Regions from separate parts of the Homo sapiens genome. Here region 1 is reported to be linked to region 2. Evidence: microRNA targets listed by miRTarBase, many of them from high-throughput screens and not tested one by one. Region 2 holds a microRNA gene; the other region holds the end of a gene's coding sequence.

Evidence for each region. Region 2 holds the annotated microRNA hsa-miR-558 (UGAGCUGCUGUACCAAAAU, at 2,117-2,135, shown strand). A microRNA usually pairs through its seed, bases 2 to 8, with sites in the 3' UTR of a target mRNA and lowers its output. Matches are read on the target gene's strand: a 7mer-m8 pairs with bases 2 to 8, a 7mer-A1 pairs with bases 2 to 7 and ends in A, and an 8mer does both.
Region 1: miRTarBase lists ZNF141 as a target of hsa-miR-558. The part of its 3' UTR that is shown has no 7-base or 8-base seed match.

What each region holds. Positions count from the first base shown.
Region 1 is chr4:373,548-376,547 of GRCh38, reverse strand. ZNF141 (zinc finger protein 141) reads right to left here. Exons shown (of 4, transcript NM_003441.4): 4 at 1-3,000. The coding sequence ends at 2,686. Among named protein-coding and RNA genes, the nearest start is that of MIR571, 25 kb to the right of the region's middle.
Region 2 is chr2:32,530,097-32,533,096 of GRCh38, forward strand. MIR558 (microRNA 558) reads left to right here and starts at 2,057; the gene lies at 2,057-2,150. It overlaps BIRC6 (baculoviral IAP repeat containing 6), which reads left to right. Exons shown (of 74, transcript NM_016252.4): 61 at 1,259-1,455.

The DNA of each region.
Region 1 (3,000 bases), not on the chromosome of region 2:
GGATGCATAAATGTATGAATTATAATTATACTGATATAATACTACAATCATAATTGTACATTTAGAAATAATTAAAGTGTATAATTGGATTGTGTGTAATACAAAGGATGAATGCTTGAGGTGATGAATAACTCATTTACTCTGGTATATTACATGTTGTATGCCTGTATAAGAAAATAACCCATATATGCCATAGATAAATATGCATACTATGTACCCACAAAAATTTCGGAAAATAACAAGAGTGAAAATACAACATATGGGAATGATATTCTTCAATGTATTTGCTATTTAAAGCCACTGGAAAAAGAGAATACTAAAAATGTCATTCAACTATGTTACCATTGTTACCATCTTTTACCTACACCATTGAGTAAGGTGGGATAGGTTTAAGTTGGTGGCATAATGACACTTCATTCAAGCAACAATTATTTCAACACGTTAAAAATTTTGTTTAGTTAAAAAATTATGTTCCCACATAATCTTAAAATAATTTTAAAATTTACTGTATCTTATTACATAAATGTATAATTGGTAAAACAATTTACTACTAAAACAGATTTTCTCTCACTATAATGCAGAAGAATATTACTCTGAACACCTACCTCATGCATCACTCAATATTGTCAACTACAAAAAAGCCTCTCTGCTAGATTTTCATCATGGATCTTTCATTTCTGTCCTCACTCTTTCTTGTAAAAATTCACAAATAATGCCCACCTAATGAAAAAGAATCTCTCTTATCTCTGATGCAGCAACAATTCATCACATGCTTTCACATAAACAGGAATGTTGAAACAGTATGAAATAATTTGAGTTGAATTAACTATTATATGCTTTTCAAAAAATCTATACTTTTTTCAAGTGAAAAAATATACTTTAAATGTAGTATCTCTTCAAAAATCTTCTTTTCAACTTATATACAAAGAAATTCTCTAATAGGTTCAACTTTGGATTTTTTTAATACTTAATACTCTGATTTACTGCAGTGTCTAAAGTGTTAGTTCCTTAGTTCTTTCTACTGTAAATCCTCTGATGTTTACATACTCTTCTTTTTAGACTAAATATTTCTTCACATTTACTGCATCTACAAAATATTTTCTAGTGTAAACTGTTTAAGCTGCAGTTTTTGAACAAATGTTTTTCCACATTTATTACATTTGTAGGATTTCTCTCCAATATAAATTTTCTGATGTTGAAGAAAGTCTCCTTCAGTGTTTTCCCCTATTATAAAATGTGTACAACAAAATCCATGAGAGAAGTACAGGTACTACAACCCTCTTTATATTTGTATTGTTTGTCTTAAGAATACTCTTCTTCACTTTAAAGGCCTATATTTTCTGAAGTCTTTCAACAGAAATTACATTTATAATGTTTTTATTAAGTATGAACATTGCTAGTTAGTAAAATGTGAGGAGATATGACTTTTCTATATTTTTTATATTTCTATAACTTTTCTCGAATATAAAGGATATCATGTGCAAAAAGATGAGCATTGGTAAAAATCCTGCCACATTTTTTGCATTTCCAGGGGATTTCTTCAGTAGGAATTATATATATACAGTAAGATGTGACAAGCATTTGAAGGCTTTGCCACATTTTTCATATTTTTGTGGCTTCTCACCAATATCATTTCTCTTATATTTAGAATAGATTGAGTGTGGTTGCAAGCTTTGTCACACTTTCCACGTTTGCAGTTTCTCTTCAGTGTGAATTATCTTATGATTAGAAAAGACTGAGGAAGATTTAAAGACTGCCACATTCTTCACATTTGTAAGACTTTCCTCCAGTATGAGTTCTCATTATGTTTAAGAAGCCTGGAGTATGGCTTAAAGGTTTTGTCACATCTTTTACATTTCTATGGTTTTATATCTAGGATGAATTCTTATATTCATCTTTCATATCTTCTCAATGTAAGTTTGTGGAATGAATCTTCTACTCTCAAATATGAATTTTCATAAAGGTTTGTGGATGGTCTGAAGGCTCTGCCACGTTTTTCACATTTGTAGCATTTTTTTCCCCAGAATGAATTATCTTGTGCACAGTAAGGGTTGAGAACCTATTGAAGGCTTTGCCACATTCTTTACATGTGTAGGGTTTCTCTCTGGTATAAATTCTCTTATGTTTAACAAAGTTTGAGGATGTGGTAAAGACTGTGCCACATTCTTCGCATGTGAAGCATTTTGCTCCAGCATGAATTCACTTACGTTCATTAAGGGTTGAGGACCATTTAAAGGCTTTGCCACACGGTTCACATGTGAAGTTTCTCTCCAGCATGAATTATATTTATTAAGCATTGAGGACCAATTAAATGCTTTGCCACATTCTGCCACATGTGTAGGGCTTCCCTCCAGCATGATTTTTCTTATGTTTATTCACCGGTGAGGGCTGTTTAAAGGTTTTGTTACACTCTTTACATTTGCAGGGTTTATCTCCAGTAATAATTTTCTTCTGCTCATTCAGGTTTGTGGACCATTCACAGGCTTTGCCATATTCTTCACATTTGTACAGTTTCTCTCCGGTATGAATTCTCTTATGTTTATCAAGGTTTGAGAATGAGGTAAAGAACTTTGCCACGTTCTTCACATTTCCAGGGTTTCTCTACAGTATAAATTTTCTCATGTTCATTAAGGTTTGTGGATCATCCAAAGGTTTGCCACATTCTTTACATTTGTAGGATTTCTCTCAAGTATGAATTTTCTTATGTTTATTCAGGTGTGAGAACCGTTTAAAGGCTTTGTCACAATCTTTACATTTGTAGGGTTTATCTACAGTATGAATTTTCTTATGTTGACTCAGGAGCGAAAATTGTTTAAAGGCTTTGTCACATTCTTTACATTTGTAGGGTTTATCTGCACTATGAATTTTCTTATGTTGACTCCGATCTGTGGACCGTCTAAAGGCTTTGCCACATTCTTCACATTTGTAGGGTTTCTCTCCAGTATGAATTTTTTTATGTTCATTCAGGACCCTGGACCGTCCAAAGGCTTTGCCACATTC
Region 2 (3,000 bases):
AAGTGAGAAACTCAACTTACAACTTTGTTATAATTTATATTGAGTGGCATTTCTTGCATATAAACATGTTTTCTCATATAATTGGGATCACATATTTTTGTTTTTTACTTATATATTCCATTAATTTTTTTTGAGACAGAGTCTTTTTCTGTCTCCCAGGTCGGAGTGCAGAGGCACGATCTTAGTTCACTGCAACCTCCGCCTCCCGAGTTCAAGTGATTTTCCTGCCTCAGCCTCCCGAGAAGCTGGGATTACTGGCACCCACCACCATGCCTGGCTAATTTTTGTATTTTTTGTAGAGAGAAGGTTTCACCATGTTGGCCAAGCTACTCTGTAACTCCTGACCTCAACTTATCTGCCCGCTTCGGCCTCACAAAGTGCTGGGATATAGGCATGAGCCACCGCACCCGGCCCTTATATTCCATTAAATATTTTTGAATATCCATTTTTGAATTGGCTATTTTTTCATAAAAATGTAAGAAAATTTATTTGTTCCCCAATCATCGAAACATTGTGGTTGTTTCCAATTTTTACTCCTATAAATGCTATATAAGTAGTTTTCATAGTGTGAGTATGATATGAACTTACTTAAACTTTCCATCTTTCTCATGACTAAAATTCAGTCTTTAGTTATTGGTCTTTTGTATTCTTCAGCAAATTTTGGTACATTGTCTTTGCCCAGTTTTTCAGCACGATTATTTCTCTCTTTTGTTTTAATGTTTAAAGGGTCTGGTTACGTGACCTTTTGGTTTTCTTTGGTGAGTAATTCAGAGTTAAACTAATATGGTATAATTTTTTGTTTTAAGTAAGGGAAGTCTTTGTCATTAATTTTTCTTAATAGGATACTTTAGAGCATATTATTTGCTATGAGAACTTTGAGAACTTATTTATTTTAACATAGGATATACGTTAAAGTATGCCCTAAAGGACAGTGCTTCTCAAACTTCAGTATGCTTACAAATGACCAGCATCATACTGTTAAAATGGAGATTCTTCATTTCAAACTAGCTTGCAGGTGATGCCAATACTACTAGTCCATGAACCATTCTTCCAATAACAAGACTAAAGAAGGCAGTATCAGAAGTCATTTAAAGGTCATTGTACCGTCTAGCCATAATACAGCTATATCTAAATAAATGATGTTTTGTGCTCTTTTTTGAGTAGCAAGAAAGCAGTAATACCTGCTTTTGTAAATGAAAGAATATTATAAAAATATACCCTTTCTTACCTATTCAGTTATTTGTAATTTATTGTCTAGATCATGGAGACTTACTTGCTAGCTGTCCAGAAGATGAGGCTCTCACTCCAGGTGATGAATGCATGGATGGGATACTGGATGAATCTTTGCTTGAAACCTGTCCAATTCAGTCACCATTACAAGTTTTTGCAGGAATGGGTGGACTGGCTCTTATTGCTGAAAGACTACCCATGCTATATCCAGAAGTAATTCAACAGGTAAGATAAGATTTCCTAATCGAGTATATCATTCCATAGCTAAGCCCTTCATTCTTTTTAATGTTTGTTTTTTAATGTACTTGGATTAACTTTGTAGAAATACCCTTTGCTTTATATTTTTTGAACATTATATAACTCTTTCAATGGTCAGTCTGTACAGAGCTTCATGACCTTCAGTAGGTATGGAAGAAATGTTGAAGATCAAGCACACTTGCCAGACTTACTACACTGTTGCATTTATCTTGATTTCATGGTTGTAACACTAGCATTCTCTTTTCTATGCTGCTTTAAGTGTGATATTTATTAGAGATATTATTGGAAATAGGAGAAGTAAAATAGCAGTGTATACTGCCACCAATATATGTCTTTTTGTTTACCTTTTATTCCTGTTTCAGGTGCCATTTCCATTTTTGGTGGTTTAAAAACATGACCTATTCCCGTGTTCATTTACGAAGCTGTCAATGTCTGTGCTTTCCATGCTCTTGTATCAATCAGTAGGAAGTATGGTGCATGGAGAGTTGTAAAAACAAAACTTTGTGTTTGTTGAATGAAGTAGGGGAATTATTCTCTTTGATTTCATGTCGTGTGTGTGTGTGTGTGTGTGTGTGTGTGTGTGTGTGGTTATTTTGGTATAGTAGCTCTAGACTCTATTATAGTTTCCTGAGCTGCTGTACCAAAATACCACAAACGGGCTGGCTTAAAACAACTGAAATTTATTCTCAATAGTTGAGGAGGCTGTAAGTCTGAAATCAAGATATCAGCAGGGCCATGCTCCCTCTGAATTCAGGCTGTAGGGAAGACTCCTTCCTTGCTTCTTCCTGGCTTCTATTGGTTGCCAGTAGTTCTTGCTGTTCATTGGTTTGTAGCTGAATCACTTTAATTTCTGCCTACGTCGTCATATGGCCATCTTTCCTGTGTGTCCTTGTATCTCTTTCTCCTTATAAGGACACCAGTCATTTAATGTAGGGTCCTGCAAACCATTATCTCCTCATCTTAACTTGATTACATCTGCAAAGGCCCCATTTCCAAATAAGGTCATCTTCATAGGTGCTAGGGGTTAGGACTTGAACATATCTTGGGAGGACAAAATGCAACACACAATAATACTTATTCATGTTATTGCTTCCCTAGTATTCAAAAATATAAGATGATATAACTATGTTATAAGGTGATTGACACAGAATGAGCAAAATTTTCTTACTAGACAATGACATAATTACTCAAAAGTTTGAAGCAGAAAAGACCCCAACATTTTCAGCATTATTATTGCTCAACATAAATGATTTTTTCTAATTTAGTATTCAGTGTGGTTCACTATATTGATTAGTAACTGGAAATGGGGTCCTGGTAATACATACCTAAGAATGTGAAAGTGACTTTAGAATTGGGTACTTGGCAGAGTATGGAATAATTTTGAGTAGCATGATTTAAAAAAAAAATCTAGATTACCTTGAATAGATTGTTAGATAAAATGTGGATGATAAAGCTTCTGCCAGTGAGGGCCCAGAAGGAAGTAAGGATCATAGGGGAGAAAACCTACAGTGT